Regions from separate parts of the Homo sapiens genome. Here all the other regions are linked to region 2. Evidence: fine-mapped expression QTL. A gene starts in region 2. Each other region holds a variant in brackets. All regions are shown on one strand. Distances are between the middles of the regions. Region 1 holds the start of LOC124902112 (a long non-coding RNA gene). Region 2 holds the start of AK3 (adenylate kinase 3). Region 3 has its middle 20 kb from the start of RCL1.

What was found. PIP is the estimated chance that this variant, and not a neighbour inherited with it, causes the effect.
Region 1: its variant is the best candidate, but not a certain one, in a credible set for the expression of AK3 in whole blood (TOPMed, PIP 0.88).
Region 3: its variant is the best candidate, but not a certain one, in a credible set for the expression of AK3 in cerebellum (GTEx, PIP 0.64).

What each region holds. Positions count from the first base shown.
Region 1 is chr9:4,715,043-4,719,283 of GRCh38, reverse strand. AK3 (adenylate kinase 3) reads left to right here. Exons shown (of 5, transcript NM_016282.4): 3 at 1-149; 4 at 747-865. It overlaps LOC124902112 (a long non-coding RNA gene), which reads left to right and starts at 872. Exons shown (of 2, transcript XR_007061401.1): 1 at 872-1,028; 2 at 2,002-2,210. The variant C/T (reference allele first, on the strand shown) is at 2,127.
Region 2 is chr9:4,738,685-4,742,925 of GRCh38, reverse strand. It overlaps AK3 (adenylate kinase 3), which reads left to right and starts at 1,724. Exons shown (of 5, transcript NM_016282.4): 1 at 1,724-1,989. The coding sequence starts at 1,839. RefSeq lists silencers at 1,335-1,824, 2,055-2,194.
Region 3 is chr9:4,770,867-4,775,107 of GRCh38, reverse strand. No RefSeq gene overlaps it. Among named protein-coding and RNA genes, the nearest start is that of RCL1, 20 kb to the left of the region's middle. The variant A/C (reference allele first, on the strand shown) is at 2,028.

The DNA of each region.
Region 1 (4,241 bases), 24 kb after region 2:
CAGAAGCCCTAGATAGAGCTTATCAGATCGACACAGTGATTAACCTGAATGTGCCCTTTGAGGTCATTAAACAACGCCTTACTGCTCGCTGGATTCATCCCGCCAGTGGCCGAGTCTATAACATTGAATTCAACCCTCCCAAAACTGTGGTGAGTAGTTGTTGTGGAACTGTCACATAGCAGACTGTCCCTGAGTCCTCTTGCCCTAACAGACATAAGTTGAGTGAACTTGGAAATCCTCTGACCAAAACTCCTGAGGGTATATTCTCAGGTTACTTGGTAGAGTTGACTGATCAAGTCCACTGAGCTTGGTGCGAAAGGTTGCCCCAGGAGCAGCAGGGGTTTGTTACTCATTCAAAAACATTTGTTGATTTCCTGCTCTGCCAAGGAGTGTGTTAGGAGTTGCGCTGATAGAGATTCATAACACCTTGGTTTATTTAGGACTTGCAGTTGAAATTCCAAGTTTATAGCTGAATCTTTTTGAATATATATGAACTTACTTAGAGGCTGCTTAGAAAACCTTTTACTCTAAGGCTAAAGTGACTGATAACTGTAGAAATGAAACTGGCGTACCCTGTTTCTGTTGCGATGATCTCTTTTGAGGTTGGATTCCATTTTTTTAAAAGTTAGCACATTTTTGTGCTTGGCACTTGCACAGAGATGTCTGTTTAAAAATAATTGAACTGCTTATGAAAATATCTTTCAGAAATATGATATCTGATACTAGTCTCTTCTAATCCTGTTTAGGGCATTGATGACCTGACTGGGGAGCCTCTCATTCAGCGTGAGGATGATAAACCAGAGACGGTTATCAAGAGACTAAAGGCTTATGAAGACCAAACAAAGCCAGTCCTGGAATATTACCAGTGAGTTTTTGCTTTTCAGAACTTCTCTTGCGTAGTGGTGCACTAAGTCTAGTTTTGATTTTCCTTCCTCTACAGCTGAAATGCTAAAATGCCAAAAGACCCAGTTCACATGGGCTTAAGTAATAAAGGAAATACATTAGCTTGTGTAACAGAAGTCCAGAAGGTAGGTTGGGCTTCAGTCACACCTGGGTTTGATCAGTGTAGCCGTTCTCTTGGTTTTGCCTTCCTGTGTGTGTATTGGCTTTGTCCTTAGGCTTCCTGCATGGTAGCAGACATTTGTAGGAACAGCCAGGGCTTCCTCTTCTATGAAGGGCTGAGGGGTAACCTTTCCTCCAGTGAATAGAAGCCCAGAGCACCACTCGGATGGAGCCAACTTGAACTACAGTCAGGGAATGCCTGGCACTAACTGTTACAGGCTTGGGTTACTGCCTACTGCAGAACCAGTCATTGGGGTGGGAAGGATTCCACTGATTACACTGACTAGTCCACTTCTAGAGTTGGCAGTGCGACAGTCTCATCCATACTCTGCTATGTGCAGATGTTCCGCAATTTACAATGAAATTACATCCTAATAAATCCATTGTAATTTGAAAATACCAAGCACCATAACTTAGCCTGCCTTAAACATGCTCAGAACACTTAGATTAGCCTACAGTTGGGCGAAATCATCTAACACAAAGCCTGTTTTGTAATAAAGTGTTGAATATCTCACATAATTTACTGAATATTGTACTGAAATTGAAAAGCAGGATGGTTGTACAGGTGCTCGAGGTACAATTTCTATTGAATGCATGTTGCTTTCGCACCATCATAAAGCTGAAAAATCCTGCATTGAATAATTGTAAGCTGGGGATTGTCGGTAGGGGAGGCAGGGCTGGAATGAATGCTGGGGAGGCAAACTTAATATTGCCCACCACATTTGCCAATACAGGATGCTATGGTGTGGAAGAATCTCAGATGGCAGCTAATCCCTCAGACTATGTAATTGGCTAGCAGTCTTTAAAAGCTTACATTTTAACATTGTTTTGTCTGCTCTTGTTTTGTCTGCAACACGTATAGGAACCGTACTGAATGAGTATTTGACTTAGGCTAAGAAATACTCCAGTTTTCTTACTGAGCCTTCCTGCTTCTTACAGAGGATTGACTGCCTCCCCTTTCATTTATGTACTTATTGAATACTGATCCTGATCAGGGCAGAACAGTATCTTGGGCAGAACACAGACTCTGGAGCCAGAATACCTAAGTTCAAGTCCCAGCTCAC[C/T]ATCTTCACCTTCACCTTCTGCTTAACCTCTGCCTGTTTTTTCCTCTGTAAATTGGGGAAGAGAATAAAGGTTTGAAAGATTAATATGGGTAACTCTTAGAACTGGGCCTGACGCATAGAAAGCACTATAGAAATGTTAGCTATTGTTATTGTTGTTGTAATAGCGTATGTATGCAGTAGAAATCTGAAGCAATAGTTTCCAAACTGTTATTTATTTATTTATTTTAGAGACAGGGTCTCACTCTGTCACCCAGGTTGGAGTGCAGTGGTTCTTTCATAGTTCACTACAGCCTTGAATTCCTGGGCTCAAGCAATTCTCCTGTCTCAGCCTCCCAAGTAGCCAGGACTATAGGCCCGTGCCACCAGACCTGGCCAATTAAAAAAATTTTTTTTAGAGCTGGGGCTCTTGCCATGTTGCACGGGCTACTCAAACTCCTGGCTTCAGGCAACCCTCCTGCCTCGGCCTCCCAAAACATTGGGATTACAGGTACGAGCCACCATGCCTGGCCTTTCAAACCATCTTAATTTTTTCTGGAGCATAAAATTACAAGGTTGGCAAACCATTTTTTGTAGTAGCTGTTACTATAATTTTGTCATTTGTTTAATGAGGCTGGTTCTGAAAATTACCGTCTCTTTTGCCCTAGGCAAGCTATTTAACCTCCATGCCACAAATCCCTTATTTGTAAAATCAGGCAATATTAAATAGCATCTGCTTTATAGGGTTGTTAAAAGAATTAAGTGAGAGATCCTGGAAAGTCCTACAACAGCCCTGGTGTCTATTAAATCATTCATTGTCAGCAATTATTGTTCACTCTCTTGACACTGTGCTAGGCCCTTGGTCCACATGGACAATTAGATCCAGTCCCTGTCAGGCTCCAAGAAGCTATGTTTGTGGGTGAGGTGGGGAGCTGGGTAAACAGTATTTATCATACAATATGATATGTGCTTATATTAACTAAGAACCTAATTCACACCAGGTTAAGCAAAAGGGGAATTTATTGGTAATGTAACTGAAAAGTCAAAGATAGATGGATGGGTCCAGGTGTTCAAAAACACCTATCATCAGGCGTCAGTCACTCCGCTCCATTGTCCTGTGCTGGCTTCAGTCTCAGGTGTGCCCTCCCTGTGTAGCAGCCCCTCAGCTTTCCAGTTTACCTCCTACCAGCCAGAAACCCCAGCAGCAAAGAGCCTCTTTTGCCAGCAAAAGTCTTGGGGTCGGCACCGATTAGCTCTGATCATGTCCATCCTTGAAGATGGGGAGTGGGGACAGTCTCTCCTGAACCTCGTCGACTGAGTTTGGTGGAGAGGTTATTTCCCAAAGGTAACCAGAGGAAGGGAGAATGCATTGTTGCTGGGCAGATAACACCACCACTGCAAGGCTATGAATGATAATCCCCCAAAGCAGTGAAGTACCAGGGGTTGTTGGGATTCGTTCTGTCAAAATATCAAAATATGGGAAGGGGCCTGGGACAGTGGCTCATGCCTGTAATCCCAGCACTTTGGGAGGCTAAGGCAGGAGGATCGAAAAGGCAGGAATTCAAGATCAGCCTGGGCAACATGGTGAAACTCTGTCTCTACAAAACATAAAAAAAAATATTAGCCAGGCATGGTGGCACATGCCTATAGTCCCAGCTACTGGGGAGTCTGAGGTAAGAAGATTGCTTGGACCCAGTGGGTCAAGACTGCAGTGATCTATGATTGCTCCACTGCAGTCTAGAGCGCGGGTGTCAGAGTGAGACCCTGTCTTAAAAAAAAAAAAAAAAAAAGTAGTAAGGGAAGTTAAGGAAAGCTGCGAAGATGAAGTGAAAGACACGGGCCCCTGTCTTAGGAGATATTTTAGAAGTCTTTCTAGGCTCCTTCTGGCTTTTGCTGCCTTTTGCTGTTAATTCAAGCTTTTCTTTTCTTTTTCTTTCCTTCTTTCTTTTTTTTTTTTTTTTTTTTGAGACGGAGTCTCACTCTCTCTCAGGTTGGAGTGCAGTGGTGCCATCCCAGCTCACTGCAGCCTCCTCATCCCAGGTTCAAGCGATTCTTATGCCTCAGCCTCCCCAGTAGCTAGGACTACAGGCACGTGCCACCATGTCCTGCTAATTTTTGTATTTTTAGTAGAGACGGGGT
Region 2 (4,241 bases):
ACCCCGTCTCAAAGAAACAAAACGAGGCCGGGCGCGGTGGCTCACATCTGTAATCCCAGCACTTTGGAAGGCCAAGGCGGGTGGATCACCTGACGTCGGGAGTTTCAGACCAGTCTAAGCAACATGAAGGAACCCTGTCTCTGCTAAAAATATAAAATTAGCCGGGTGCGGTAGCGTGTGCCTGTAATCCCAGCTACTCGGGAGGCTGAGGCAGGAGAATCACTTGAACCCGGGAGGCAGAGGTTGCCGTGAGCCGATTGCACTCCAGCCTGGGCAACAAGAGCAAAACTCTGTCTCAAAGAAAAAAAAATGTACAAGGTATGTATTTTCTTTCTTTCTTTTCCACACCAGAAAGTATAAAGGCTAATGCCTTTTCTAAGTACCAGGCTGTCTACCTATTGAAATCCCCCATCCATTCACTCAGCTACGATTCACTGACTGTCTCACCCTGAAGTCATTTCTATCTTCTTTGAAATCAGTTCTGGACCTCTGAGGAGAATGGTAACTGTGTTTTATTTTCAGAGAGCCTTCTTTCTGCCTTAGCATAGTGTCCGGGACAAAGCAATGATGATAAATGGACAACCATTATTGAACATTGACCCCGTAGCTGGCATTGCACTAAGTACTACATTATTTTAACTCCTCCATTCTACTCCTCTATGCCCATTTTACAGGCAAAATGATACTCACTCGAACGTTTTTGTCCTCTGTTTCCATTCTTGAAACATGCCAAACCTCCAGTTTTAGGGCCTTTTCCTAAAACTGGACATAGGAAGGGCCCATGTCTCTCTCTTCCATATTCTAATTAAGCACTCAGCACACATGCCATCTCTTCAAAGCTTTTCCGACCGCCTATCTACAACAGCCTGCCTCCACAGTTTCACACACTCTTTTACGTTATTTATAAAAGAGTCTCACTCAATGGAAGCTGGATTTCCTCTCCTGTAAAATGAGGTAGGCCCTCTCGGCTCAAGGTCACTCCCTGTGATTCTACACAGAGAGGGAGTGGGAAGAGAGGGCGCTCGGCAGCAGAGGAGGAGGAGGAAGGAGGGAAGGGCGAAGGCGGGAGTGGGTGCAGAAGCGGGGGGTCTGGCGGTCCAGGGGGGTAGAAGGGAGGGGCGGATTCGAGTGGGCGCCAGGTGGAGGTGGGGCCAGGGTTGTCAAGGGAGCACGAAAGGGGTCGCGGTGTGTCCGGCAAGGACTGGGTAGGGCAGCGCCTGCTATGGACTAGGGGCGAGGGCTACGAAAGGGTTGTTGGAGGGGTGGATGCGGGTGGATCCCGAAACCAAGCGGCTCCGAGGGGCGACTAGAGGTGGGGAGGGGGCGCGCAGGAGTTGCCAAGGTCGGACAGAGGGGAGCGCGGTCTATCCGGCTGGGAATGGGCCGGACAGGGCGCGGGGTTCCGGGGTCGCGGAGAGGCGCGGAGGTAGATCTGAGCCGAGTGGAGGGCGCGTGGGGGTGGGTGCAGAGGGGCGCCGAAGGGATCCGGGCCCAGCGGCCGGTGGAGAGGGGCCGCGGAGAGGCGCAGGTGGGAGCTGGGCGGCCGAGCGAGCGCAGAGGGGGCGCGGCTTGCGCGGCTTGCGCGGCTGGGCGGGAACAGGCGCTCGGTCGGGGGCGGGGGGTGCGCCGGGGTAGCCGAGAGGCGGACGCAACAGCGGGGTCCCGCGCTGTCTGGGCGGCCCCAGGGGCTGTCGGCTCACTTCCGGGAACGCCGGGGAACCGCAGTAGCCGCCTGCTAGTGGCGCTGCTAGCCGGCCGGCGCAGGCTGCCGAGCGGGTGAGCGCGCAGGCCAGGCCAAAGCCCTGGTACCCGCGCGGTGCGGGCCTCAGTCTGCGGCCATGGGGGCGTCCGCGCGGCTGCTGCGAGCGGTGATCATGGGGGCCCCGGGCTCGGGCAAGGGCACCGTGTCGTCGCGCATCACTACACACTTCGAGCTGAAGCACCTCTCCAGCGGGGACCTGCTCCGGGACAACATGCTGCGGGGCACAGGTGGGAGCTCTGGGCCCAGGGCCGGCCGTGCGCTGTCACCCGGGTCGGACTTCGCGGGCGAGGGGCCGAAGCTGGGCACGCGGGTCCCTGGCTGCGGGCGCGGCATTTCCCTCCCGCCGCCCGGGACAGAGACCTCGGGCTGCTGAGCGACTGCGCCCCAAAACCTCCGGCCTCCGTGGGCCGCTTCGGGCGGGTTATGGGGTGGCGGTGGGGGAAGGGACTGGAAAGTTAGGTCGAGCTCGAAGTTCAGAGATGAAAGGAAACCACCGGGCTTTGTTTCAGAGGCCCAAGTCCTCCCAGTGGCAGCCACTCTTGGGGGTCCATCGAGCTGAGCCGCAGCTTGTTCAACGTGCTGGTGCCTTTGGAAGACTGTCATTAGCCCTGCTAGAGTCTGCTCGTTCTGTTTTGTTTTCTTTGTTTCTTTCTTTTCTCTTTCTTTTTTGGTGTGGTTAAGCTCTATGAGATCTTGTAGTTCTGACCTTTCCCCCATATTCCCAAGGCCAAGTATTATTTACCCTTGTTGCAGTCATAAAATTATCTCATTTTGATATCCTTAGATTTCGTAGACACGAAGGCTATTCTTGTGCATGGTTCTATAAAATATTTTGTTTCTCATGCCAAATAAATTCTTACAGCTCGGCACGAAAGGCAGTTAACAATCTACACTATACAATGGGTGAATTTGTGGTATGTAAATTCTCTCTTAAGAGGGTTGTTTTTGAAAAGCCAATCGCAGGAGTTTTTTTCTCAAAAAATGTTGACCTTACTTTTCAAAATAGAACCCGTTTTGAAACTCATTTTGAAACCCATTTACATAGAAATAATGCTTCCACAAGGCCTTTTTCTTTTGTTTTCCTTCTTTTTTTTTTTTTTTTTGTAAGGATAGCAAACAGGATAGACGTGCATAGCATAAAAAACAACGCCCTCTTTCGTTCCCTACCTCAGTCCCATTCTTCGGAGGGGAACAGAGTTTTCCTTCTAGAAAGGTTTACTTTTTAAGCGCAGATACGTGTACCTTTTTTCTTTTTTTCTTTTTGGTTTGTTTGTTTTTTGAGACGGAGTCTTGCTCTGTCTGCCTCCTGGGTTCAAGCAATTCTCCTGTCTCAGCCTCCCTAGTAGCTGGGACTACAGGCGCATGCCACCACGCCGGGCTAATTTTTTGTATTTTTAGTAGCGATGGGGTTTCACTGTGTTAGCCAGGCTGGTCCCCATCTCCTGACCTCGTGATCCACCCGGCTCGGCCTTCCAAAGTGCTCGGATTACAGGCGTGAGCCACCGCGCCCGGCCAACGTGTATCTTTTCTTGTATGTAATATGTGAGCATACTATGTGTATATACTCTGCACTAGTGTGGTTTCACTTTGTGTCTGGGATATATTTCACATGAAAACGGACAAATCCATTTCATTCTGTTTTTGTAGTATGTATTTTCTGAATCTAGTATGATTTATTTAACCAGTTCACACTTGTAATCCCAGCACTTTGTGAGGTCAAGGCGGGCGGATCACTTGACCTTAGCAGTTCTAGACCAGCCTGGGCTACTTGGTGAAACTGCGTCTCTATAAAAAATTCAAAAACAATTAGCGAGGCGCAGTGGCAGGCACCTGTGATCCTAGCTACTCGGGAGGCTGAGGAGAGAGAATCGCTTGAACCTGGGAGGCGGAGGTTGCTGTGAGTCGAGATTGCAACGCTGCACTCCAGCCTGAGCAAGACCCCATCTCGAAAAAAAAGAAAGAAAGAACAGAGATTGTTTGACTTGCTTGCTAAATGTTGTTAATGCGACATACTGAAGTAGTTAGGTAACATTAAACAGTCCCAGATACTGCTACTGGTTGGGGTCAGGTTAACCAAAGTCTAGGAGAGTAGGCCTGGCGCAATGGCTCATGCTTGTAATCCCAGCACTTTGGGGGCTGAGTCGGGCAGGTCACTTGAGGTCAGGAATTCAAGACCAGCCTAGGCAACATGACGAAACCCCCGTCTCTACCAAAAATACAAAAAATTAGCTGGGCATGGTGGCTCGCGCCTGTGGTCCCAGCTTCTCTGGAGGCTGAGGTGGGAGTATCACTTGAGCCCGGGATGCAGAGGTTGTCATGAGCCGAGATTGTGCTACTACACTCCAAGCTGGGTGACAGACAGAGTGATACCCTGTCTCAAAAAAAAAAAAAAAAAAAAAAAAGTAAAGCATATTTATTATAAAAGAAGGAAACTATATCTATTTCATGCAAATGTAAAAAAGGTAAATTAAGATCCCTC
Region 3 (4,241 bases), 32 kb before region 2:
AGTTAATGGGTGCAGCACACCAACATGGCACATGTATACATATGTAACAAACCTGCACATTGTGCACATGTACCCTAAAACTTAAAGTATAATAATAATAATAATAAAACAAAGAAAGAAAAAAAAAGTTCTACTCACATCTAAGTTTTTCTCTCTTTTTTTTTTTTTTTTATTTGAGACAGAGTGTCGCTCTGTTGCCCAGGCTAGAGGGTAGTGGCGCGATCTTGGCCCACTGCAACCTCCACCTCCTGGGTTTAAGTCATTCTCCTGCCTCAGCCTCGCAAGTAGCTGGGATTACAGGCGCCTGCCACCATGCCTGGCTAATTTTTTTGTATTTGTAGTAGAGATGGGGTGTCACCATGTTGGCCAGGCTGGTTTCAAACTCCTGACTCAAGTGATCTGCCCACCTCGGCCTCCCAAAGTGCTGGGATTACAGATGTGAGGCACCGCACCCGGCTCACATCTAAATTTTTAAAAATTATAAATTATATGCTATTTATAATATAAATATTTTTATTTGCCCATTAAAATAAGGCCTATGCACTATGTTGCCTATCCAATCCTAGGTGTGACTATGTGTTTTGCTTTGGCCAATGAAATGTGAGCAGAAGTTACTTGTGTCACTTTCATGCTGAAGCTCCTCTTTTCCTTTGTCATGGCAACCAGTATTTTTCCAGTAGCTGCTCCATCAGCCTGGGTCTTGGAGTAGGAACCACTATGTTGCAACAATCAACTCCCCAAGGACAAGCAGCCAGAGTGAGAAATGAACCGAGGTGGTTTCAAGCTACTGAAATTTGGTGGTTGCTTGTTAGTGTAACATAACCTAGCCTATCTTGACTGATAAAGCAAAGAGTCTTTAATTTGGCTCTATATTATGGAGACCCCAGGTTTTGATGCAATTGAAGACATTGGAAACGTATTATCTTTGAAACAGCACAGAGGTACTAAACGATTACTCTGTAACTGAGAGAAAAACATGTATGATCTATGGAATTAATATCAGCTTACAGGTCAATTAAGTTGTTAATTATTCATGGAATCATAGGTTTTCAGGGCTTGAGGGATCTTGGAGATGACCAAGCCCAATACTCTGTCCAACACACAGCTCCCCTATACACCACACCCAGAGCATGGTCTTCTAGGGTCTTATTGTAAACCCCCATGGATTGACAGCTTATGCCACGTGAGGCATTGTGGTCCATTTCCTGATAACTCTGTTTAAACATGCTTTTTTGCATGGCAAGTTGACTTCTTTCTTCCTCATATTGCAATGCTTTGGTTATGGGAGCAAACTTAACCCCTCATGCAATAAAGCCCTAATATGCCACCTTCTCATCCTAGTGAAATATACCCGGTTTTGTACACTATTCCTCAATGTCATTCCAGACCATTGTCTTTCCCAGTCATTGACCTGGGGTCCACCTGTAAGTCTGGTAGACCATTCTTCAGTACAATAAAAAAGACTCTGCGAGGCTGAGCGCAGTGGCTCATGCCTGTAATCTCAGCACTTTGGGAGGCCGAGGCGGGTGGATCATGAGGTCAGGAGATCGAGACCATCCTGCCTAACACGGTGAAACCCCGTCTCTACTAAAAATACAAAAAAATTAGCCGGGCGTGGTGGCGGGTGCCTGTAACCCCAGCTACTCAGGAAGCTGAGGCAGGAGAATCGCTTGGACCGGGAGGTGGAGGTTGCAGTGAGCCCGAGATTGTGCCACTGCACTCCAGCCTCGGTGACAGAGTGAGACTCTGTCTCAAAAAAAAAAAAAAAAAGTCTCTGCATTTGGCATGCACTGTTCTCTACTCCCCTTCCTTGTCATATCCCCAACTCCACCACATCCCAAACTGGTTGCTGGTAAAATAGAAGCCCTAGCACAGTAAAGCAAACCCATAAAAAACACCTTTCATGTGACAGTTGTCTAAGAAATCAAAGCCACATCAAGAAGAATGGCTAATATTTAGGTCTGGAACTGTAATAATTTAAAAAAGGACAATTCCCTGAATTTTCCCTTCAGGGAGAAGTATTGGAA[A/C]AATGGATTTATTGCATAATTCCAGCCGAATTAGTTTTGGGACCAAAGCAGTCTGAAACCAGAAAAGGGAAACTAGCTGCAATGAATTCCAGGAAATATCAACATGTGTGTACTTCTTAGAGGGAAATTTCCAGGGATTTCTGGGAACATTTTGTAGCTTCGGTGCTTACATATGTTTAGTGTACGTAAGGCAAAAGCTTAACCCAAAGATATTCAGAAATTGACACAGTGAGTCTTTTCTTTTTCTTAAAAAAAGTGTCCTATTTTTTCCTGATTTATAAAAATACTACATTATCATAGAAAGTTTAGAAAACACAGAAAAATATACAAAAGTAGAAATTAAATCAGGGCAAATACTCTTACAATAAATTCTTTGTATTATCCAATAGATAATGGTATACTTATTAATGATCATGTTTGATGTAAAAAAAATAATAATAATGGAGCCAGGTGCAGTGGCACAAACCTATAGTACCAGCTACTCAGGAGGCAGAGGCAGTAGGGTTGCTTGAGCCCAGGAATTCAATGCTGTAATGCACTATGGTCATACCTGTGAGTAGACACTACACTCCAGCCTGGGCAACACTGTGGGGCCCCATTTCTAAAAATAAAAATTTTTAAAACTAGGTTGAAAATTACTTTGGTTGTGTTCTTAAATTCTGTTGAACAGAATTTAGGATTCTTAGAAATTTAACTCTCTTCTTCCTGCTGGAATTATAGAATCTATGTTAATTTCTTGACCTTACAAACAAGGAAATCAGTAATAATAAACTCCGTGATTGTTCCATTGCTGACCAAAATGTCAAAAAATGTTTCCAGCTAGGCTTTTTTCAGCAGCCCATAGAAAATATTTATGGTCATTTCAAACTCAACATGTTTAAAAACTGAGTTCATCTTCCACTCAAATTTGAGGTTCTTCCCAGTCATGCCATTTTTCGGAAGAGACAGGTAATGCTATTTTTCTGGCCCACCAGATTCACAACATCAATGCATCTCTCTCTCTTCTTATCAATATATTCAAGGGCCTGGTGTGGTGGCTTATACCTGTAATCCCAGCACTTTGGGAGGCCAAGGCAGGAGGATCACTTGAAGCCAGGAGTGGAGACCAGCCTGGGCAACATAGCAAGACCCCATCTCTACAAAAAAAATTACAAATTAGTAGGAAATGGCAGTGTGCACCTGTAGTCCCAGTAACTTGAGAGACTGAGACAGGAGGATAACTTGAGCCCAGGAGTTAGAGGTAGTAGTAAGTTATGATCATGCCATTGCACTCCAGCCTGGGTGGCAGAGTAAGACCTTGTCTCTGAATAAACAAACAAACAAATAAGTCATATTAAAGAAGATAGCAATTCTTTTTTTAGGAGGGGGACAGAGTCTCGTTCTGTCACCCAGGCTGGAGTGCAATGATGCGATCTCGGCTCACTGCAACTTCTGTCTCCCGGGTTCAAGGGTTTATCTTGCCTCAGCCTCCTGAGTAGCTGGGGCTACAGGCGTGGGATACCATGCCTAATTTTTTTTTGAGACGGAGTTTTGCTCTGTCGCCCAGGCGCCCAGGCTAGAGTGCAGTGGCGTGATCTCAGCTCACTGCAGGCTCCGCCTCCTGGGTTCACGCCGTTCTCCTGCCTCAGCCTCCTGAGTAGCTGGGACTACAGGCGCCCGCCACCATGCACGGCTAATTTTTTGTATTTTTTTTTTTAGTGGAGATGGGGTTTCACCATGTTAGCCAGGATAGTCTCAAACTCCTGACCTCAAGTGATCCACCCACCTCGGCCTCCCAAAGTGCTGGGATTACAGGCATGAGCCACTGCACCCGGCCAAAGAAGATAGCAATTCTGTTGATTCTTCCTTTAAACCCTCTGTAGGATTCCAGCCCCTCCCTTTGAAATTTCATGTCACAACCTTAGGCCCTATCAACTGGGAAGCTATTAATAAAGGAGAACCAGAATTAATCTCCATCCAGCCGCCTTCATTATTCTTCCTAAAGTATCCTTATGTTTTCAGTCCTTTTTTTCTTTACAATGTGTGTTAGCTCCAAATTGCTTACTGACTCAAATCAAAACTCTTTGGCCTAATGCCATTCACCCAAAAACTATTGATTTAACTACTCTGTGCCAGGCACTGTGCTGGGCAGGAAGGATGCAATGGTGACCTTAACAGACAAGATTCCCTGCCTTGTGGTGCTACAATCTAGTGGGGAAGACAGATAAAAAAAAT